4 separate regions of the Homo sapiens genome follow, and regions 1, 3 and 4 are each linked to region 2. The links come from fine-mapping of genetic effects on gene expression. A gene starts in region 2. Each other region holds a variant in brackets. All regions are shown on one strand. Distances are between the middles of the regions. Region 1 overlaps GDI2 (GDP dissociation inhibitor 2). Region 2 holds the start of GDI2 (GDP dissociation inhibitor 2). Region 3 overlaps TASOR2 (transcription activation suppressor family member 2). Region 4 overlaps ANKRD16 (ankyrin repeat domain 16).

Region 1 (5,793 bases), 41 kb after region 2:
AGAGCCGATTTTAGTTGAAGAAGCAGAGTAAAACCCAGACATCGCATGGCTTTAGGCTTTAGCCTCACCACACTCACGAGCCTCCTGTCCAGGAGGGCCATTAGTGTCTCAGGTCTGCTCAGTGTGGACCCCGAAGAGCCATCCATCAGGGTGAGCGAGGAGGGATAAGCTATGGATGCAGAGCCGCTGCGGCCGAGAGGAACTGTTCCGGTGATTGGTTAGCAAGCGGGAGAGTGGAAAGGGGAGAAGAAAACCGTGTATGGGGGTTGAACGCCTCCAGCCAAAGAAAATGAGGTGTAGAGGTCTCTTACTACTAGGGAATGTATCCGAGTCACACAGCACCAAATGTGTTGCTGGTGGAAGGTAGCCGAGTCACAGGCACCAAAATATGTTACCGTGCTGAGATGAATCCGTACGGGTCTGCAGCAACCTCAGTTCTTTTCTCCTCAGAAGAAAGAATGACCAAGGGGCATAAGGTAGAAGGAGAGACTGAGGCAAGTTTTAGAGCAGGAGTGGACGTTTATTGAAAAGCTTTAGGGCAGGAATGAAAGGAAGGAAAGAAAGTACACTTGGAGGAGGGCCGAGTGGGCAGCTCGAAAGACAAGTGCCTGGTTAGTGATTTTTTTTGACTTCGTATTTATAACTGATTATGTTTGTGTTTTTGACTCTGTTTTCTTGCTTTAATCACTTCTAAGCTGACATCTTTCTAGAAGGAAATTGAACAAATGTATATTGTCTGTAACTCATTAAGATCTAAGAAAGGGGACTTTAGGAGTTGAAACAACTATATATTATTAATTGGGATTTTAAAAATTTTCCAGGCTAAGTGCTATTTATGGAGGTACCTATATGCTGAATAAACCCATTGAAGAAATCATTGTACAGAATGGAAAAGTAATTGGTGTAAAATCTGAAGGAGAAGTAAGTAGCTTTTAAAATGAAAAAAATTACTATGTTCTTGTGAAGAAAGTTGTGTATTCTAAATATTGATTTTGGTGTGGACACTGATGCATATGATTTCTGTATGGGAAGTTAGTATTTATTGTGACTAAGGACTAATTACAGTTGCTGTGCTTTGTTTTAAAAGCATCTTTTTTGTTGTCAGTTGTTGATTATTTTAATATTGAAATATGCATTATGGGTGAGCTCTAAATAGTAAGTATTCTGTATTTATAGAGTTTGGGTTGTGCCTGTCTCCCAAATTTTCATTGAAATTGAACTGTACTTGCAGGCCACCTACACGGGTGGGGTTTTGAGCAGCATTTCTCAAATGTGAATTATATATAAAGCATCATTAATCTGGTTCTAGTGCATGTTCTAATCAGTAGGTCTGAGAAGGCTCTGCATTTTCTTGAAACCTCTTAGGTGATGTGGATGCTACTGAAAAAAAAAATCACAAGGAAAAAAAGATCGTTTCCCTTTATCACCATATGAATTAATTCTTCTGCCATTTGACACTGTTACTATCTGCAACAGTTCTTGCAGTAGAGGATGCACTTCAAAGTGCACTGCTTTACTGTCTCACTGGAATTCTAAAAATCTAAGCTTTATCTTTTTAACATTAAGCTGTGTGGGAATGTAGCAACCTCCTGGGTGGTGGGGTGGGGGGCATCTTCAGTTATTTAGGTCTCACTGGAAAGTTTGAGATCAGAGTTTGGTAGGTGGTGTAAGGGGACAATGAGTAAGGGAGAGAAAATACAGGACTGACTTGGGGCAAAAAACGCCTGATAATAATTTGTGAAGCACATTTTCAAACTCATTTATTCCTTACAAGGATCCTAAGAGGCGGGTATTATGTCCAGGTTATACCTGGAGGCTTAAATGAAGAAACATCTACAAGGGCACACAGTTTAATGAATGGCTGAGGTAGAATTGGAATTAAGGTGTTCCGCACCCACAGCCCTCAGTCGTTATACACCTGAGGATGTAAATTCCTGTGCTGGGTGATGTTAGATTTGTGTGTTTTATCTACTAAAATGTTATTTATTTATTTATTTATTTGAGACATCAAATCGTTTTGCTCTGTCGCCGAGGCTGGAGTGCAGTGGCGTGATCTCAGCTCACTTCACCCTCCACCTTCCAGGTTCAAGTGATTCTCCTACCTCAGCCTCCCGAGTAGCTGGAATTACAGATGCATGCCACCATGCCTGGCTAATTTATGTATTTTTAGTAGAGATGGGGTTTCACCATGTTGGCCAGGCTGGTCTCGAACTCCCGGCCCCAAGTGATCCGCCCGCCTCAGCCTCCCAAAGTGTTGGGATTACAGGCATGAGCCACTGTGCCTGGCCTTCTAGACTGTTACTTAATTGGGTCTTTTGAACATATATTTTAGGCAACTTCTTTATAACCCTGTTTCATCTTGACTGTCGTAGTGTGATTGGCTTATCTGCTTTAAATGAAGTTACAAAGCACAAAAGAAGTCATATTTTGTTTGACATGTACATTACTAGGTTTTGTTAATGCTAACTTAATTCTCAGGTATATCAGCACAAATAGCACTGTTTACCATCCAGGTCCAACAAACTTCACTCAGCCACCTTTGTGGGGTTGGGGTCATCAGTATCACTGTCTTCCATCTCCACATCGTGTTCCACTGGAAGATCTTCATCAGGGACAGTAACACTGCTTGTACTTTCAGCATAATAGTTGTTTAGGAGATAGAGATAAATGGTGTGTTTTTTTTTTTCTTCTCAGTCACCAGGCTGGAGTGCAGTGGCACGATCTTGGTTACTGCAACTTCTGCCTTCCGGGTTCAAGTGATTCTCCTGCCTCAGCCTCCCAAGTAGCTGGGACTACAGGCATGTGCCACCATGCCCAGCTAATTTTTGTATTTTTAGTAGAGATGGGGTTTCACCATGTTGGCCAGGCTGGTCTTGGTTTCTTGACCTCGTGATCTGCCTGCCTCGGCCTCCCAAAGTGCTGGGATTACAGGTGTGAGCCACCGCGCTCGGCCAGGGATAAATGTTTTAATCTGTCTTCTGAAAGTTACTTTTATTCTGTATTTTTCTTTTGTTTCATTCTTTGTGTTTCTGAAACTTCAGGGCTTTGATATGAAAGGGAAGGAGGCTATAATACATTTATCTTGCAATTCAAGTTTTTCTTAGGAAGCATAGCCTTAAGATGATAA[G/A]GATTTTAGTCTATGTAGAGTACATTTACTGAGCATTTATTTTTTGTCAGGACACCCACCTATAATGACAGACTTTTTTACACCATTTCATTTAGTTCACTAATGTCCAACCTTTTGGCTTCCCTGTGCCACATTGGAAGAGGAAGAATTGTCTTGGGTCACACATAAAATATGCTAACAGTAATGATAGCTGGAAAAAGGGTCTGTGCATAATTTCGTGATGTCTGCCACCACAAATAAGCAAAAATGTCCTTGCATTCAAGGGGCTGGACGTGGCTGAATTTTAGTACTAACAACAATCCTTTGAGGTTAGGTAGAGCCAGGATTTGAACCCTGATCTGCCCAATTCTAAAACTTATACTTCTGAATACTGTGCAACACAGTTTTCCTAGTATTTGAACAGGATTTACAGTTCATATATCTGTTCAAGGAGAAAATAGTAGGGATAATTGGCAAAGCTAGTTTCAGTAGTTACCGACAGTTTAATAATTACCTTGACTTTTATATTCATTAGATTATGAAGATAACAGATTATATTCAAGGGAAAATTACATTAATATACTGTTTAAAACATTATAGACACTGAATATTAGTCTTTTTCCCTCCATTTTTTTTTTTTGTGATAAAGTACCCATAAAATTTACCATCTTTTTTTTTTTTTTTTTTTTTTTTGAGACAGTCTCACTTTGTTGCCCAGGCTGGAGTGCAGTGGCGTGATCTTGGCTCACTGCAACCTCTGCCTCCTAGGTTCAAGCAATTCTCCTGCCTCAACCTCCTGAGTAGCTGGGATTACAGGTGCCCACCACCACACCCAGCTAATTTTTGTATTTTTAGTAGAGATGGGGTTTCACCAGGTTGGCCAGGCTGGTCTCAAACTCCTGACCTCAGGTGATCTGCCTGCCTCGGCCTCCCAAAGTGCTGGGATTACAGGCGTCAGCCACTGCGCCCGGCCAGAATTTACCATCTTAACCATTGTTAAGTGTACAGTTCAGTGGTATTAAATATATTCACATCATTATACAACCACCACAACCACCATTCATCTCCATAACACTTTTCCTCTTCTTTTTTTTTGAGATGGAGTCTCACTCTGTCGCCCAAGCTGGAGTGCAGTGGCATGATCTTGGCTCACTGCAATCTCTGCCTCCCGTATTCAAGTGATTCTCCTGCCTCAGCCTCCCCAGGTAGCTGGGATTATAGATGCATACCACCACGCCCGGCTAGTTTTTGTATTTTTAGTAGAGACAGGGTTTCCCCATGTTGGCCAGGCTGGTCTTGAACTCCTAACCTCAAATGATCCACCCACCTTGGCCTCCCAAAGTGCTGGGATTTTATAGGTGTGAGCCACTGTGCCCACACTCACTTTTCCTCTTCTAAAGGAAACTACCAATTAAGTAATAACTCCTCGTTCTCTGCTTCCAGCCACTGGCAAGCACCATTCTACTTTCTTTCTCTATGATTTTAACTACTATATTTTATATAAACGGAATAATATAGTATTTGCCTTCTTGTGACTAGTTTATTTCACTTAGCATGATGTCCATGGTTCATCTGTGTTGTAGCATGTGTCAGAATTTCCTTTTTAAGGCTGAATAATATTCCAATGTATGGAAAGATAGACCATAGTTTGCTTATCCATTCATCGATACCTGGATTGCTTCCATGTTTTTGTGAATGTATTGTGAATAATGCTACTCTGAAAATGGGTGTACAAATGTCTCATCAAGACCATGCGTTTAGTTCTTTTGGGTGTGTACCCAGAAGTGGAATTGCTAGATCATATGGTAATTCTGTTTTTAATGTTTGAGAAACTGCCATACCATTTTCCATAGTGGCTGGACCATTTTACATTCCTGTCAGTAGTGGACAAGAAGTTCCAGTTTCTCCATATCCTTGACACTTAATTTTGTTTTGATAGTAGCAATCTTAACGGTTGTGAGGTAGTAGCTCACTGAAGTTATGATTAGTGATGTTGAACATCTTTGCATGTGCTTATTGGCCACTTACATATCTTCTTTGGAAAAATGTCTATTCAAGTCCTTCGATTTTTTTTTTTTTTTTCTTTTGAGACGGAGTTTTGCTCATTGCCCAGCCTGGAGTGCAATGGCGTGATCTCGGCTTACCATAACCTCCATCTCCCAGATTCAAGCGATTCTCCTGCCTCAGCCTCCCGAGTAGCTGGGACTACAGGCATGCGCCACCGTGCCCAGCTAATTTTGTATTTTTAGTAGAGACGAGGTATCTCCATGTTGGTCAGGCTGGTCTCCAACTCCTGACCTCTGGTGATCCGCCTGTCTTGGCCTCCCGAAGTGCTGGGATTACAGACGTGAGCCACCGCGCCCAGCCCTTTGATCATTTTTGAATCAGGGTTTTTTTTGTTGTTGTTTTAGGAGTTCTTGATGTATTGTGGATATTAATCCCTTATTTGCAGATATTTTCTCTCATTCTGTGAGTTGCCTCAACTCTTGATTAGTGTCTTCTGATGCAAAAATTTCTTTATTGTTTTTTTAAAAGAGACAGTGTCTTGCTGTGTGTTGCCCAAGCTGGACTCAAAGTCTTGGGCTCAAGCAATTCTCCTGCCTCAGCCTCCCAAGTAGCTGGGGTTACAGGCACATGCCACCATGCCTGGCTATGCACAAGATTTTTAAAATTTTCATGAAATCCTG
Region 2 (5,793 bases):
CTTGAACTCCTGACCTCGTGATTCACCCGCCTTGGCCTCCCAAAGTGCTGGGATTACAAGCGTGAGCCACTGCACCCAGCCTGCCCAGTTTTTTTTTTTTTTTTTTTGAGACGGAGTCTCACTCTGTTGCCCAGGCGGGAGTGGAGTGGCGCGATCTCGGCTCACTTCAGCCTCCGTCTCCCGGGTTCAAGCGATTGCTCTGCCTCAGCTTCCCGGGTAGCTGGGACTACAGGCACGTGCCACCATGCCCGGCTAATTTTTGTATTTTTAGTAGAGATGGGGTTTCACCATATTGGCCAGGCTGGTCTCAAACTCCAAACTCCTGACCTTGTGATCCGCCTACCTCAGCCTCCCAAAGTGCTGGGATTACAGGCATCAATCACCGTGCCCGGCCTCCAGCTAATTTTTTTTATAGGGACAGTGTCTCTGTTACCTAGGCTCTACAGCACAGGCTGGTCCCAAGTGATTCTCCCATCTCCCACTCCTGGCCCCAAGTGATCCTCCCATCTCAGCCTCCCAAAGTGTTAGGATTACAGGTGTGAAGCACTGTGCCTGGCTCAGGTACAACATTTTAGATGCACTCAGTCCGTTAAGGCTTAGTCCAGGTTTGATTGTTATTGTCCTTCTGTTGGGCCATAGGGCCTGTACTGTGAACTAAAATGAACTTCAGTGTTAAGTAAGGAAGGGATCCTTATTAGCCTTAAATTCAATTCCCTTATCTCAGTGTCTTCAAGTTTCTCACAACTCTTGAGTATCGATAAAATAGTCTTCACCTAAAACATGGTTAACATAATTCAGTTGACATGCTTAAATTTCTCTTCAAGAGCCAGAGGCTGATGGCAATTGTGAAAAAAGCTCTTTATTGTTATTGCTAATAAAAAAAAAAGGGCCAATAGTCAGGTGTGGTGGCCTGTACCTCTTGTCCCTGCTACTGGGGAGACTGAGGTGGGAGGATGGCTTGAGCCCAGGAGATCAAGGCTGCAGTGAGGCATGATTACACCGCTGCACTCCAGCCTGGACGACAGGGTGAGATTGTCTCAGAAAAATAAAGAAAAAGGGTTATTTCATATTGGTTCAAAAATATAGGTAGTATGACCCCCTGATGACTTGAAGACAGAGCAACAGAAGGACCTTCTTTAGTCATCATTAGCTTAGCCAAAAGAAAAGTCAGTTACACTCACTGTTGCATAATCAGTTGTATGGTCAACTGTGCACTAATTCATTTGGTCACAAATATATACAATCAAATTAAGGTTGAATGTAAATTTAAACTTTACTTTTGCTTTCTTCTCCCCTCCCCCCCAGAAAGATCCATGGTCCAATATAACATATCTTCTTCAAGTATTTATGGGGTAAGAAACATTTTAAAAAGTTGTTACATTCTTTCCTCTATCTTAATGATTTAAATATGAGCAAGTTCGGTCTATCAAGGCAGGCTCTGAATAGCTACTATCGAGAAGTATTTGAGGAGTTCTTGAATGCCAAATCTTCATTGTCTGCTGACTCTGCAGATTTATCACGTGCTGAAAGCACAGGTTTTCCAACTGTCAACGTCTTTACGAAATTCACCTGCTTAGGCTTTCGTGGGGTCGGCCTCTTGGAGCTGAGAACACAGCTTCTGCTTACACCTGTGTCCTCAATGAAGCCAGAGATTCCTAAGAGAATTCTAGAAAAAGAGGAGCGGGGTAGAAGGCAAGCAAGGAACAGTTTCTAAGCTTAGGGCCTAAACCTTTGCATACAAGGATCAGCTACCACGTTTACAGCGGCTTTAAGTTACAGCCCTCGGTAGGTGCAGATCGGCTTCCCAATGAAACCTGGCTTTCACTTTCATCTCTGTTAAGGGTTACCTTTTCAAAAGAAGCCGCTTTTCCTCCTACCAATTTCCTAAAGCGCCCACCGGCAACGCACTAAACAAGGAGGGCACAGAGCGGGAAAAAGGACACGTGTGATTTCCGAACTCTTCCCGGCGGGCTCCGGGCCCCGGCAAGCCCAGCCCCGCGGGAGGAACCAAGGCCGCCACCCCCGAGAGGCAGCCCGGCCCGCGCTCCTCGCCCACGTGGCCGCCGCACGCGCCCGCTCAAAGTCCAAGGGCGGCGATCCGGCTCTGGGACCTTGGACCGAGCGAGCTCCCGCCCCGACGGCGGGAGTCAGAACGGTGGTGGCCAGCAGTCCCCGCCCGCGGCTCCGTGCACCTCCACCCCGGCCCGCGCGCCGCCTCCCGAACCACCGTGGCAGAGGCCGCAAGGGGAACCGGAAGCCAAAATGGCGACGCCCCGCCCTTTTCCTCTCGCGAGAGGCGGGGAAGGAAAAAAAGTTGTGCGAGCGACGGGGACGTAACCAATTAGAGTGCCGGGAGCGCCTGATTGGCGGCCCTCCCGGCGCCTGCAGGCCCCGCCCCGGCTGCGGAGGCTCAGTCACAGCCCTCCCCTCCTCGCTCCCTCCCCTCCTCTCCCCGCCCAGTTCTTCTCTTCCCGTCTGAGGTGGCGGTCGGTCTCGCCTTGTCGCCAGCTCCATTTTCCTCTCTTTCTCTTCCCCTTTCCTTCGCGCCCAAGAGCGCCTCCCAGCCTCGTAGGGTGGTCACGGAGCCCCTGCGCCTTTTCCTTGCTCGGGTCCTGCGTCCGCGCCTGCCCCGCCATGAATGAGGAGTACGACGTGATCGTGCTGGGCACCGGCCTGACGGTGGGCGCCAGGGCTGAGGGGCCGGGGCTGAGCAGCCGGGGCGGGCGCACCCCCGGCTCCTGCACGGCCCGCGGGTCGCAGCTCCTCGGGGGTCTCGTTCTGCCGTCAGCCGTAGTTTTCGGGACGGGAGTCGTGGCTAGGGGCGCGGGCGGGTTCAGGGGCGCCCCGCGTCCCGGGGCGAGCGGGCGGCTCCCAGTGTGAGGGGCAGGCGGGGAAATGGAGATGCGGGCCGTGAGGCTCGGGGCGGGGTGACGGCCGAGCCCGGCCTCTGCGCTTGCCCCCAGCGGAAGCGGAGGGGAGGGGAGAAGGCCGCCCGGGCCAAGGGTCCCGCTCCCCGGTTTGGGCCGGTGACCTCGCCCGGTTGGAAACCAGCACCCGAGGCGGAGGGGACGGTGCAGGCCTCGCGGTTGCATTTCCTATTCCGCCTCGGCCGCTGCCCCGGGTCAGTCTGGCTGCCAAAGCCGAGTACGGGGTTTCCTGACAAGTCTTGGATAATCACTGCTTCGGAACTGCTAGGGCTTGATTAACTTATATTTTTGGCGAAAACGTGGAAATTAGTCTTTTAATCCTTTCTCCCCCCTGCTAATGAGAAGTATTATTGAATCCTTTTAGCCACCCTCCCTTCTCACTTACTGAGCATCTGTAGAATTGGAATTGAGTTTTTTCAAAACTTGTCCGTCAAATGCTTTCGCACCTGACCTTCGCCGCCTTTTCCTTTTGTTTGGTGGGTTCTCTGCCTCCTTTGTCTCTTCTGGACTGTTTTCCCCTAAGAATTGGGTTGGTGATGGATTGCTAAAAGCCAAGTTCTCTGTACTCCGAAGCTTTCTTCAGGGAGTTGGAAGATAATAACATGAAGAATGCATTGTAATATATGAATGCAAGGTGTACCTAATATCATGGTATATTGATTTTCCTGGTTATCTGTTTCTAAGGGAACTTTAGGTAATCTGTAGATAACGCAGGCAGGTTCTGTAGTTTGTACTTTTTCTGTTCTTTTTTTTTTTTTTTTAAATGTTCATCTTGCAAAAGAATTCACTTTGGAGAAAACCATTTTAACTATCAATTTTTGGGGAAATTTGAAATTCTAACTTTGGGCTGCTTGATCATAATTAAGATGAATACTGATGTAAATCTTGTGTATCCTATGTACTCTGACTTCAAATTCCTGAGTCATTTAATGTAGACTTCCACTTCAAATTTTTTGAAATTTATTATAATCTCTCAGGGTCAAACCAATTTTTTTTTTTTTTTTTACAGGTAACATCCCAAAATAACACTTTTAGATGTCTCTAGGCAAGAGAAAACCTTCGAACTTTTATTTGGCTAATTTTTTAGGAAAGGTTTGTGAAGAATTAGAATCGTGTTTTTCTGGTCTGTCATTTTTCTGTTTATAGTTATATGCAATTATTAGAGAATATTCATTCTGAATACTTCGTTATGTTTGACCAATCCAGGAATAATCCTGTGTCTGTCTTTGAAAAGCTGGAAGACTGTTGGATGCCTAAATGAATAGGCCCTACCCACTGCAGGTTTTGTGCTTTTTTTTTTTTTTTTTTAAGTGCCTAATTGGGATTCCAAGCTGAGCTTAGTAGTTTGTGGTGGATTTTGCCTGTTGGAATGGGTAGTGTTGCTGCCAGCGTGTTTTAAGAGCCGGTTAGTTCCACCGTTTTTCTATGGTTGTTGCTGGTCTTTCAGATTTGCTCACAATTGAGGTCAGTTAAGCATGCACGAGTGAGTGCAAATCCACCATCATGCAGGCTTCCACAAGCCTCGTTCACATCACTTTGTATCAAAGATGGTGAAAGTGTTTTTATATAACAAGTTAAGATAATGAGCTTTGTTTAAATTTTCATTCGGATTGTGAACTCTTTGATGAATGGTAGATGCATACTTAACTAGAAATCAGACCTGTTTCTGCTGTCATTTTGTAGCTGTGATAACTTTAATCTCTGTGAGCCTTCCTAAGTTTTCTGAGATGTTCTTTGATAATTATATCAATTCAGGACAATCACATTATTACCATCATTGATAGGAGTAGTGATGACAGGATGATTTTGATAATGAGAAATCATATATCCTTATTTTTAGTGTTACCAGGAATTAGATGATTAAAAATTAGAAGAAGAGAAAACCAAAGTTAGCACTCAGAATTAACTTTTGAATGTCTGGAGTTAATTAATTTTCTTAAAATTTACTTTAGTGCCTGAGACTTAAGAACCTAAAAAAAGGCAAGTACTTTCAGTGTTAGGAACTTGTTACTTTTAAAGAAGTGTAAGGAAGTGCTGGAGTTGCTGTGTTGCTTAGTGCTGCCATTGTTTGTATGAGTTGTTAAGTCTAAGCTCATAATCACAAATATTGATAGTTATCTTAATCAAGAAGATACAAAACGATTTGGTATAAAGGAGTAAAATCTTCATTCTGTGTGTAAAAGAAATGGAATATTCCACACAATTGAATTTTCTGAGGAACTAAAGGTTATCTCTAAAGAGCACAGCTTTTGGATAATGCCTTTCTAAATGCTGTCACAACTTCTTTAACAAACTAAGAAACATAATTTACTTGATAACCAAGTTTTCACATAGTGAAGATTAACTATTGTGTTATGCTGTAACATGGTGAAGCCATGAAGACCCCGCCAGCTTTGTAGGAACTTTTGCCCCCTTTACTCTCAGGCTGCTATGCTTTTTGAGCTCTTCAGTTTACTCTTCATATTTTTTCCCTCTATCTTACTTTACTGTTAGGCTGGCAACATTTACTTTTCTCTGCTTTCAGCATGTGTAGGCAGCCTCTCACCACATAATTTGCACATAGTTCACTATGGACTTGGAAATAAATTCACGAGTCTTGTTAGACATAGTAGATTAAAACAATAAGAGTAACTAGTTCCACAGCTGTTTGTGCTTCCCAGAGGTTTTTTTCTTCCCATTTTTTGTTCTACACAGTAAGAATTTATGAATAGAAATATATACTTTAGTGATGTATACCAGATGATTCTCAGCATCATATGTTTAAAAACTTGCTTTACATCCCAGATACTTTTCCTCATTTCTCTTTATCAGAATTTTGTGATTTCAGATTCAGAGAAGGTTTTATACTTGATTTTAAAATTCTGAA
Region 3 (5,793 bases), 110 kb after region 2:
AAAATGAAGAGGGGGCTATACCACAAAGAAACCTAAAAATCTAAGACGGTAAAACTTGAAAAGTGCTTGCCTATAAAGCATTAAGTATATCCCTTAGGGCTTAAGTGATGAATAAAGAGCATGTGAGAAAGGTTAAATTCAATCACAACAGAGGAACATACGTGTTTTATGTTGCAATTTGAAAAGTTAATCACCTATTACTTTTGGACTAATGATTATTTTAAAAAATATAGGTACTGGAAATCATAATTTTTTAAAGTCTTTTTGTTTTACATGATCTAAATTAAAACTAAAAACATTTTAATCATTCTATTCTGGATTCATTAGTTATGACTTATAGCACTTAGTTTAATACCCACTCTTTTCTGATAGGGACCCTGTCTCGATCTTCTCTAAGAGAGAATGTAGCTGGGAGGGTGGTCTTAATTCATTTTCACCAAGTATACCCTCAGAATTCTTGACATAGTCCTGTTCTCTGTTAATGTCATAAATGCTAAAATGAAGAAAGAAAAAAAATCATAAAGTGAACAATTCTATTTATAGCATATTTACTATAGAAACAAATGTTCGCTGAGTAATTTGTATTAGGAATAATTATGTAATATTTATTTACCTCCTTTGACAAGTATTCTCAGCTAAGGACTTAATTTGTTCTATAAGCTATAACACATAATCTGAAATGTTTTTCCTCCAAAAGTCTTTAACTTCTAAAGAAAATTTTGTACACAGAAATATATTATGCTTAATCGCTTTTGCCTTACTGAAAAAAAATCTTTCAAAATGAAGAGATCACAGAACCACATCTTTATTCCACTAGTTGAAAATAACGGAATCAAGCAGAACACAATTTACAAAAATCTCTCTCCTCCCCCAAATTAGTTGTATATATATTCATTAAACAAAACTATTAGTGGTGACTATTATGCATCCAATATCATGCTAAATCTTGGATTTATCAAGACAAATGGCAAACAGTCTCTATTACAGGGAAACAGGCTCTACATTAAAAAAGTTCAGATTAGGCTGGGCGAGGTGGCTCATGCCTGTAATCCCAGCACGCCGGGAAGCTAAGGCAGGCAGATTGTTTGAACTCAGGAGCTTGAGACCAGCCAGGGCAACAAAGTGAGACCCCACCTCTATAAAAAATACAAAAATTAGCCAGGCATGGTGGAGTGCACCTGTAGTCCCAGCTACTTTGGAGGCTGAGGTGGGACGATGGCTTGAGTCTGGGGGGAAGAAGTTGCAGTGAGCTGAGATTGCACCCCTGAACTCCAGCCTGGGTAACAGAGCCAGACCATGTCAGAAAGAGAGAAAGAGAGGAAAGGAAAGAAAGGAAGGAAAGGAAGGAAGGAAGAAAGGAAGGAAAGGAAGGAAGGAAGGAAGGAAGGGAGGAAGGGAGGGAGGGAGGGAGGGAGGAAGGAAGAGATAGAGAAAGAGAGAGAAAAGGAGAGAAAGAAAGAAAAAGAAAGAAAGAAAGAGAAAGAAAGGAAAGAAAGAGAAAGCAAGCAAGTTAGCTCAGAATAGACAAGGAAGAAAAATCTGCAAAGAAATTAGTACTATAAATGTGTAGGAGTATCTAAAACATGATATAGTGGATGTACAGTGATACAACCAATTTTATGGAGATGGAGCTATGTCAAGAAAGATTTCATGGAGGCACAGATACTTGAAATCTGGAAGATATTCCAATGAGGAAGCCAAAAAAGGAAACTAGTGTACATTTTCTAGATAGCAGAAATAGTATGAGCAAATGAACAGCGGTTTAAACATGATACATTAAAGGAACTGCAAATAGTTTAATATGACTGATTAAGGGAAGAAGGGAGAGAAGAATAAGAACGAAGAAAAAGATTACAAAGGTGGTCAAGTTTTCAGTTTTTATCATGAGTCTGTGGAATAAGGATTTTCATATGCTTCACAAAAACAGCATGTATAGTTTTACAGCACATTTTCCCCCCAAAAAGAACTGGAGGTAGAATTGTGTGGATACATTCAAAATTTTTTAGGAAAAGTAGCTATGTTGATAATAATTCATGAAGGAGGTTGTTTATGTAGGGGAAAATTAGGAATAGGGAGACCAGGGTTCTGGTCTACCTATTGAACTCACTAGGTGCTACCACTAATGTGTTTTGAGACAGTGGTTAAAGACACATTGGATTGACTTCCCAACAATCATGTCCCTTTTACTTCCCTTCCATAAAACCACAATTTTGTTCAGGTATCAGGTTATCCCATGGTTCAGAAGAAGTGTGTGTGTGTGTGTGTGTGTGTGTGTGTGTGTGTGTGTGTGTGTGTGAAAATGAGTGAGGGAGAGTGAGTATGTGTGTGTGTGGGGTTGGGGGGGGAGACAGAGAGAGAGAGAGAGAGAAAGAGAATGAGAATCTTAATTACTCTAAGATCATTATGGTAATTCCACTCCCTTTGAATAGTGTTTGTTTTAGGAATAAACATGTGACTCAGTTCTGGCCAGTGAGATATAAATGGAAGTCTACAGAGAGAGTTCTGGGAAACCTTTCTTAGAAAAGGACTCCATCTT[C/T]TAGCCTAGGATCTTGTCTGAAGATGTGTTGCCTGGATCTCCTTGCAACCAAGATGGCAGCCAACATAGAACGGAACAGAACAGAAAGAAACTAGATCCCTGAACTGATGAAATAAACTAACCTGGGGGCTGCCTCATCTTTGGGCTTTATACATGAAATAATAAATGTTCCTTATTGTTTAAACTTTTATTGGAAGCTGAAGACATACTAACTGATGGATTTTGTTAAATTTATACTCTCTAAGGCCTCCTTTAGTTATAATTGCCTTTCTAAAGCTCCTTTCAGTTGTGACTCTACAAGGAACTTTACTGAAGGCTTGCTGTGCATGAGGCATGGTGCACTGGCATCAGATAACTTAGCAAATTCCTTTTTTCTTTGCTGCCATGGATAGAGACGTTATCCTAGTATTTGTTAGCAAGGAAGCTATTGTTATTAATGATAACAATGGCTAACATTTGTTGGGTGCTTACTTTTTTTTTTTTGAGACGGAGTCTTGCTCCGTGGCCCAGGCTGGAGCGTAAGTGGCTTGATTCTGGTTCACTGCAACCTCCACCTCCCGGGTTCAAGCAACTCTCTTGCCTCGGCCTCCCGTGTAGCTGGGATTACAAGTGCCCAGCAACATGCCCGGCTAATTTTTGTATTTTTAGTAGAGATGGGATTTCACCATGTTAGCCAGGTTGGTCTCGAACTCCTGGCCTCAAGTGATCTGCATACCTCGGCCTCCCAAAGTGCTGGAATTACAGGCATGAGCCACCGTGCTAGGCCTAGGTTTCACTACTTAACTGTATGTATTAATCATTGCTGAGCCATACTGTGTAGTCAAGTTCTTTCCTTATACCGTGTTTTGCTTTTCTGAATTTAAAATAGCTTAATTTTCAGTTACCAATCATTATTTCAGCTTGAAATTCTAGAGAACTAACAATATCCTCTGGATAAAGATAGATCAAAGATTTTGTCTGTTTTGAGCAGCTTCTTTTCTTTTTTTTGGAAGGACCTTTCTGGAGCACTATGTCTTCCAGCTTCAATCTGGGCTTGTGCCCTCTGATATTACTGCCTGGCTTTCTAACTTTGCTGGGGGATGTTAAGACACAAAATTGATCTACAGATTCAACACAATCTCAGTTTGCAGAAACTGATGATCTGATTCTAAAATTTATATAAGAAAGATATAAGCCAAAACAATTTTGAAAAAGAACAAAGCTGAAGGACTCACTACCTGATTTTGAGAATTACTACAAAGCTAAAGTAGTCAAGACAAGGTGGTAATGATACAAAGAAAATGCATATAGATCAATGGAACAGAATAGAGTCCAGATAACAGATTTTCAATATTGCCAGTATAATTCCATTGAGAAAGAATATCTTTGCAATAAATGCTGCTACAGAACAACTAAAACGGAGGAAAAAAACATGAACCTCAAACCTCTACCTTAAACCATAAAATTTAACTCAAAATGAATCACAGACCTAAACATAAAAACTATAACTATTTGGCTAAAATTATAAAATTTAAAAAATCATAGGAAAAAATGTACTTGACTATGGGGTACATAAAGTTTTCATAGGGCACAAAATTAGTGACCTAGAAAAATGTATACATCAGACTTCCTAAAAATTAAAACCATCTGATCTTCCAAGGTATCATTATTAAGAAATGGGAAATATTTGTAAAGTACCTGTACCTAGAATATATAAAAAACTCATAGACACATTTCACAAAATAAAGCATATAATAAAAAGAAACATGGGAAATGGGTCAATATTATTAGTTATCAGGGAAGTGCTAATTAAAACCACAATAAAATACTACTGCTCCAGTAGAATGGCTAAAAAGACTGAAAATACCAAGCGTTGGCAAGGATGAGGAGCCTCTGGAACACTCCTAGTAGAAATATAAAGCCAACTGAAAAATTATATAGCCAATTTAAAAAATAACATCAGTTTCTTATAAACACATACTTACCATATGACCCAAAATTCTATTCCTAGATATTTACCCAAGAGAATAAAACATATCCACAAAAACACTTGCACATGAATGTTCAGAGCAGCTTTTTCACAGTAGCCTAAAACTGGAAGCAACTCCAATATTCATCAATAGGTGAATGGATAAACTTGTATATTCACACATAATAATAATCAGCAATTAAAAAAAGTAAAACTGATATATGCATGCATCTCAAAACATTAAACTGGGCAAAAGTCATCAGACACAAGAGTACATACTGTAAAATTCTATACATATACAGTTCAAGAAGCAGCAAAATTAATCTATAGTGATAAAAAGCATTTCATTAGTTGCCTACAGCAGGGGGCAGGAATAGGAAAATTGACTACAAGTGGGGTATGCACAAGGGAACTTTCTGGGGTGATGGACACACACTATTTTTATTGGTGTAGTCATCACATGGTATATACATTTACCAAAATTCACTGAACTATATACTTAAATTATGTTCATTTTATTGTATGAAAATTAGACCTCAATGAAGTTGAGCTGAAAGCCCCAAAACAAAACCTAATGGTTATGAATTTGGCCACAAAGGAAATTCCAAGAGTACTAAAAAACAACTGATCTCTGACCAAAATCAAGTAAAATGACAATGTAACCATAAAAAGTTAATCTCAAAAGCCTCATGTTTGGAAATTTAAATTTTAAAAATCCTACATATAAATGGTTCATAAGTTAAAGAGTAACATGATCTAAGCTTAAGATATTATCTAAAATAGCTATAAGAAACTGTTCATTTCAAATGTATACACTACAAAAGAAAAACATTTAAAGAATCAATAAGCTACGGTCAATTCAAGAACTCAGAAAATGGAACAACACAGTAAACCCAAAGCAAATAAGAGGAGGAAATAAAAAGAGAAGATCAGATATTAATTAAACCGAAGAAAAAATAGCTGAAAAAAGATTAGCTTTTTGACAAAAAATATTGATATATCTTTAGTCAAATTAATCAAGGACAAAACAAGGCACTGAAAACCAACATTACAAATAAAAAGGAGTGTGATTTATATGTACTATAAATTATAAGGGTAATAGAAACAATTTTTATAGAAAAAATTGAAATCATAGAGAAAACAGGGGAATTTTCCAGAAATAATTTATCAAAACCTACTTAAGAAAACAGAATATACCTACAACTATTAAATAAGTGGTAGAGTTAGTTGTTATAGGTATGTAAGTCTCAAGCCCAGAAGTTTTCCCACATAAACATTATTCTCAAGAATAAAAACTTTCTTTTTTTTT
Region 4 (5,793 bases), 48 kb before region 2:
CCCAAGTGGGTTGCTGCTGCTGGCAGGGGGTGGCCAGCTTTTATTCTCTTATTTGTCCCCGCCCACGTCCTGCTGATTGGTCCATTTTACAGAGTGCTGATTGGTCCACTTTACAGCGTGCTGATTGGTATGTTTACAATCCTTTAGCTAGACACAGAGCGCTGATTGGTACATTTTTACAGAGTGCTGATTGGTGCATTTACAATCCTTTAGCTACACAGAAAAGTTCTCCAAGTCCCCATTTGACCCAGGAAGTCCAGCTGGCTTCACCTCTCAGTATGAACCTTTAATATGAGCTCTGCCCTCTAACTTTGTGAGCGTACAGCACAGTAACATTCACCTCAGGCCCAGTGCTGCCCACCCATCTGGAGGACTGATTCTTCTGGCACAGGGGAAACTTGATCTGAATTGAGAGCAGCTCCCCCTTCCCTCTCCTGTGGGATCTGCATGTCTCCCAAGTTCCACAGTAATGCTGGTGTGGACACTGCGTTGGGGAGGCCTCGTGTTGAAAGCCCATGGAGTCAGGGACGTGGCAGGATCACTGGCTGTATAGCAGCAGCTGAGGGTCCCTGTCCTGCAGTTTTCTCCACCACAGTCAGCTGCTCCGGGACAGTAGGTGGAAAGTCAGAATTCACTAAGATGGGGACTTTTCCAGGCAAACAGAGCAGAAGGGTCATTTAGCACAGTGTCTGGTACAGGGGAAATGCCCAAAACACACAGCTTGTTACTATCTAGCGCCAGCCTCCCCTTCCCTTCTCCCTTCCAACTGCGCATGGGACTCTCCCTCTCTGACTGTGCAGCATGTAGAGCCAGGCCCTGTAGCCAGCAGCCCTGAGTCCAGCTGTGGGACCTTGTGCTAGCTGCTTGCCCTCTCTGAGCTTCTGTTTCATCTGTAAACTGAGATGATAATAACTCTTTCTTCACAGAGTTGCTGGGAGCCTGAGCACCTTTCGTTTTTCGGCTCAGAGAAAGCCAAGTGCAACTTGCTTCAGTCATCCTGAACCTGAGTTCAACCAACCGCAGCCACCTACGTTTGACCCCAGCGAGATCAAAGTTGTATATCTGAGGTGTACCAGTGGTGAAGTCAGTGCCACATCTGCACTGGCCCCCAAGGTCAGCTCCCTGGGTCTGTCTCCAAAAATGGTTGCTGATGACATCACCAACCATTGACTGGAAGAGTCTGAGGATGATAGTGAAACTGACCAGCCACAGCAGACAGGCCCAGATTGAGGTGGTGCCTTCTGCCTCTGCCCTGATCGTCACAACCCTCAGGAACCACCGACAGAAAGAAAGAAACACAAAAACATGAAACACAGTGGTAGCACCACTTCTGATGAGATTGTCAACATTGCCTAACAGATGCAGCAGCAGTCTTTAGCCAGAGAACTCTCTGGAACCATTAAAGAATTCCTGGGGGCCGGTTGCGGTGGCTCATGCCTGTAATCCCAGCACTTTGGGAGGCCGAGGCGGGAGGATCATGAGGTCAGGAGATCGAGACCATCCTGGCTAACGTGGTGAAACCCCGTCTCTTACTAAAAATACAAAAAAATTAGCCAGGCATGGTGGTGGGCGCCTGTAGTCCCAGCTACTCAGGAGGCTGAGGCAGGAGAATGCTGTGAACCCTGGAGGCAGAGCTTGCAGTGAGCCGAATATGCGCCACTGCACTCCAGCCTGGGCAACAGAGCAAGACTCCGTCTCCAAAAAAAAAAAAAAAAAAAAAGAATTCCTGGGGCCTGCCCAGTCTGTGAGCTGCCATGTTGATAGTATCACAGATGATACCAACAGTGAAGCTGTGGAATGCCCAGCTAGTTAAAGAATGCAAAGGAAAATATTTTCACAAAGGGTTATCTGATAACCAAAAAAAAAAAAGACATTTCATCTAAGCCACTTAACACCGTGTCTGATGTGTAGTAAATAATAAATGTCAATGATTCTCAAAGAACCCAGGAATAGAAAAAGCATTTAATAAAAATTAGCTCTTGGCATAATCTCTTCATCCACACCCAGCAGAGTCGTCAGATGTCTTCCAGGTTCACAAGAATTAATTTCTCCGCCCCTGTTCCTGCTTTGCACTTTGTAGCAATTATCCCATGGTTCGCCTTATGTTAGAACTATTTATATAAGTGGTAGTCAAGGCCACTGAGTCATGCATCCCTGGAGGTCAGTTACTATTTCTTTTTATGAGTCAGAGTCACTCTGCCGCCCAGGCTGGAGTGCAGTGGTACGATCTCGGCTCACTGCAACCTCCGCCCCCTGGGTTCAAGTGATTTTTCTGCCTCAGCCTCCCAAGTAGCTGGGATTACAGGCTCCCACCACCGTGCGCGGCTAATTTTTGTATTTTTAGTAGAGACAGGGTTTCATCATGTTGGCCAGGCTGGTCTCAAACTCCTGACCTCAGGTGATCCAACCGTCTCAGCCTCCCAAAGTGCTGGGATTACAGGCGTGAGCCACCGCACCCCGCCTGGGTCAGTTACTGTATCTTACGCACCTTACAAACCCCAGAAGGCTGCACACAGCTCCTGCACATGGTATGCCTTCAAGGAATTACCCATGGATTTGAATAAGGTTATATATGATGTAACACTCATGCGCTTTATTTCATTTTTAATGAGTTTATATTCTAAAATATTTGCTTCTGGGGAAAAATAATTCAGACAGTACAAATAAAGATTATTCCAAATAGGATCATATAACACTCTTGCAACTTTAAACTGAGTGCATTGTTTCTCATTAGTTCTTTTTGTTTTGTTATTTTCATTTTCTCATTAGTTCTTAAAGATCTACCTCATTCTTTTTAACTTTGCATAATGTTGCATTCTTTCTGACATTCCATCTTTCAGATGTGCCACAATTTGTCTAAGCTGTTCCC[T/G]ATTTCTGGACATTTTAGGACATTCTGGGGTTGTTTAAGTTATTATAAACAGCAGTGCCGGACACATCTTTGTGTCCTTATGGGAATGACTGGAAGATAAATTCCTAGAAGCGGATCAAAGGATCTGTCCATTTTTTTAGGTTGCCAACTGTATCAGCTACAGTTCAGTTAGCAGAGACTAGCGTTCATTGGAGCCAGCTTATGCAGAAGATTTGTTACGGGGTCCTGATGGTATGCAGAATTGTCAGGAAGGCTCGAGAACAAATCTCGTTGAACTTTCAGGGACGATATCAAGGGCTGTACTTCAGACCTAGGCCTCAAAAAGAAGTGCCTTTTCAATCAGGAAAATCTTTGCCAGTATAGGAAGCTGCTGCCTTCGCTTCCAACTCCAGAAGCTTGCTGTCTTCATCTGCTACAGTCGAGAGGCCAAATGATCAGAAAACACTCCACAGAAAATCACTTGCAGCCTTTGCCAGTGGAAGCAGAAATACGGCTTTCGCTTCTGCTTTCCGAAACTCAAGCAATTAGCAGAATCCAACTCACATCTCAAAATCTGGACCTAGGGGAGCCTGGGGCATGTAGCTGGTAACTTCCCTGTGTCTGCAGTGTGGGGCTCACATGCCCAGGAGGCTGGGATGGGTCTTGAGCACCACAGACATCGCTTTTGCCAAGATTCCTTCCCAGGCATACCCATCACCAAAGCTGTGTGGTATCGCACTTTTTTTTTTTTTTTGAGACGGCGTCTCACTCTCGCCCAGGCTGGAGTGCAGTGGCACAATCTCAGCTCACTGCAACCTCCATCACCTGGGTTCAAGCGATTCTCCTGCCTCAGCCTCCCAAGTAGCTAGGATTATAGGCGCACACCACCACTTCCAGCTAATTTTTGTATTTTAGTAGAGATGGGGTTTCACCATGTTGGCCAGGCTGGTCTCAAACTCCTGACCTCAGGTGATCCACCAGCCTCGGCCTCCCAAAGTGCTGGGATTACAGGCGTGAGCCACTGCGCCTGGCCACGGTATCACACTTTTAATGGCCACTAACATGATGTACTATCTCATGATTTTAATTTTGCATTTCTTTTTTTTTTTTTTTTTAAAGACAGGGTCCTGTTCTGTTGCCCAGACTGGAGTGCAGTGGTGTGACCATAGCTCACTGCAGCCTTGACCTCCTAGGCTCAAGCAACCTCGACCTCCTAGGCTCAAGCAATCCTCCCTTCTCAGCCTCCTGAGCAGCTGGGACCACAAGCACGCACCAGCTCGCCCAGCTAATTTTTAAAATTTATGTAGAGATTCCACTTTTATAGGGGGGTCTCACTGTGTTGGCCAGGCTGGTCTCGAACTCCTGGCCTTAAGCAGTCCTTTCACCTTGGCCTCCAAAAGTGTTGGGATTACAGGCATAAGCCACCACACCCGGCCTTGGCATTTCTCAATCAGATTGAAGATCTTTAGATTTGTTTTTTTGGCCATTATAGCCCTTTTTCCTATTTTTACCTGTATCAGTTAGCTGTTACTAAATGACAGACCACCCCAAAGCTCACTGGGTTGAAACAGGAGTCTGTAGGGCATCTGGGTGGCTTTGCTGCTCGCAACTGGGCTCACTCCTGCGTCCCGTCAGCCAGTGAGTTGCTGAGCTGGTATAGGATGGCCTTGGGTGGATCAAGCTGGCTCTGCTCCCCATGGTCTCTCCATTCGGCTAGCCCAGGCTTATTTTTCATGACAGTGGCAGAGATTCAAGAGAGAAAAGAGACTTAAATGTGCTTTCCAGTCTCCGCTCTGTTTGTGTAGATGCTTCCATCCCATTGGCCAAAGCAAGGCATGGTCATGCCCAGAATTAGTGTAGGGGGCAGAACCCACAGACTGGACACAGAGGCCATTGATTGGGGCCATTAATGAAACCAGTTCTTGCTTCATCTTTTGACCATTGTTTTGTCTTGTTGATTTGTAAGAGTCATTTTTATATTGGGTAAATTAGCTCTACACATAATTTCAAATAATGACAAAATTTGGGTTATACATTTACAAGTAAAAAAAAAAACAGACTACAGCACAGCAGAAATAATCTCCTTTATAGCTCCTTTAAAAAAAAAGAGCTCTTGTGAGTAGATACAGGCATACACAGGCACTCACTACAATGCTGGGAGTGGGATGGCACAGATTCCTTGGATATGATAGGGTGTTTCTATTTAGATTACAGTATGTGGTACCTTTAAAGCAGCTCTCAGAGTTCTAGAGCTTCCACCTGTGCCAGCCTACAACATGCATGGTCTTTATTTTTCCCAGTGTTGCTGAAAATCCACGATTAGCTAAAAGGTAAATGAACGCAAAAGACGTAGGAACAAAATCCAGCTTGTGGCTCGTCCTGTCCCTTGAACACAGAGCCTTGGGTCTACCACATCCTTTCCTCTCTTCCAGCTGATACAGACTTAGATAATTCCATTTTGTGATTTAATATTAGATGGAGGTGGGGTGGCTCACACCTGTAATCCCAGCACTTTGGGAGGCTGAGGCTGGAGGATGCCTTGAGCCCAGGAGTTCACAGCTGCAGTGAGCTATGATCACACCACTGCACTCCAGCCTAGGTGACTGAGTGAGACCCTGTCTCTAAATAAAGACCAAAAAATAACAGTGGACTAAACCAAAGTTTATTTTCTTTCCCGCATAAGAGTCTGGGCATAGCCAAGTACAGATGAGCTCAACCAGCCCCAGGTGTCAGCCCCCCGGTTCCTTCTGCTGGTTGTTCTGCTGTCCTGAGTAGGTTGCCCTTTTCCATGTGGTCCAAGATTGCTCCCCAACCTGTGGAGGGGAACAGGAATGAAGGGGAGGGCCAGGCGCAGTGGCTCACACCTGTAATCCCAGCACTCTGGGAGGCTGAGGCAGGTGGATCACTTGAGGCCAGAAGTTCGAGACCAGCCTGGCCAACATGGT

What was found. PIP is the estimated chance that this variant, and not a neighbour inherited with it, causes the effect. A credible set is the group of variants that fine-mapping cannot tell apart.
Region 1: its variant is the best candidate, but not a certain one, in a credible set for the expression of GDI2 in whole blood (INTERVAL, PIP 0.70).
Region 3: its variant is the best candidate, but not a certain one, in a credible set for the expression of GDI2 in whole blood (TOPMed, PIP 0.87).
Region 4: its variant is the best candidate, but not a certain one, in a credible set for the expression of GDI2 in whole blood (INTERVAL, PIP 0.82).

What each region holds. Positions count from the first base shown.
Region 1 is chr10:5,768,970-5,774,762 of GRCh38, reverse strand. GDI2 (GDP dissociation inhibitor 2) reads left to right here. Exons shown (of 11, transcript NM_001494.4): 7 at 822-921. Among named protein-coding and RNA genes, the nearest start is that of GDI2, 42 kb to the left of the region's middle. The variant G/A (reference allele first, on the strand shown) is at 3,128.
Region 2 is chr10:5,810,100-5,815,892 of GRCh38, reverse strand. GDI2 (GDP dissociation inhibitor 2) reads left to right here and starts at 2,459. Exons shown (of 11, transcript NM_001494.4): 1 at 2,459-2,679. The coding sequence starts at 2,635. It overlaps LOC124902367 (a long non-coding RNA gene), which reads left to right and starts at 2,696. Exons shown (of 2, transcript XR_007062041.1): 1 at 2,696-3,578; 2 at 3,937-5,793. RefSeq lists enhancers at 1,689-1,788, 1,852-2,444, 2,445-3,037 and silencers at 1,989-2,168, 2,229-2,498, 2,639-3,178.
Region 3 is chr10:5,704,230-5,710,022 of GRCh38, reverse strand. All of the region lies in intron 1 of TASOR2 (transcription activation suppressor family member 2), which reads right to left. Among named protein-coding and RNA genes, the nearest start is that of TASOR2, 22 kb to the right of the region's middle. The variant C/T (reference allele first, on the strand shown) is at 2,537.
Region 4 is chr10:5,857,825-5,863,617 of GRCh38, reverse strand. It overlaps ANKRD16 (ankyrin repeat domain 16), which reads left to right. Exons shown (of 8, transcript NM_019046.3): 8 at 927-2,002. It also overlaps the pseudogene RPL12P28. Among named protein-coding and RNA genes, the nearest start is that of TRV-TAC3-1, 6.9 kb to the right of the region's middle. RefSeq lists enhancers at 432-561, 762-831, 1,132-1,181. The variant T/G (reference allele first, on the strand shown) is at 2,870.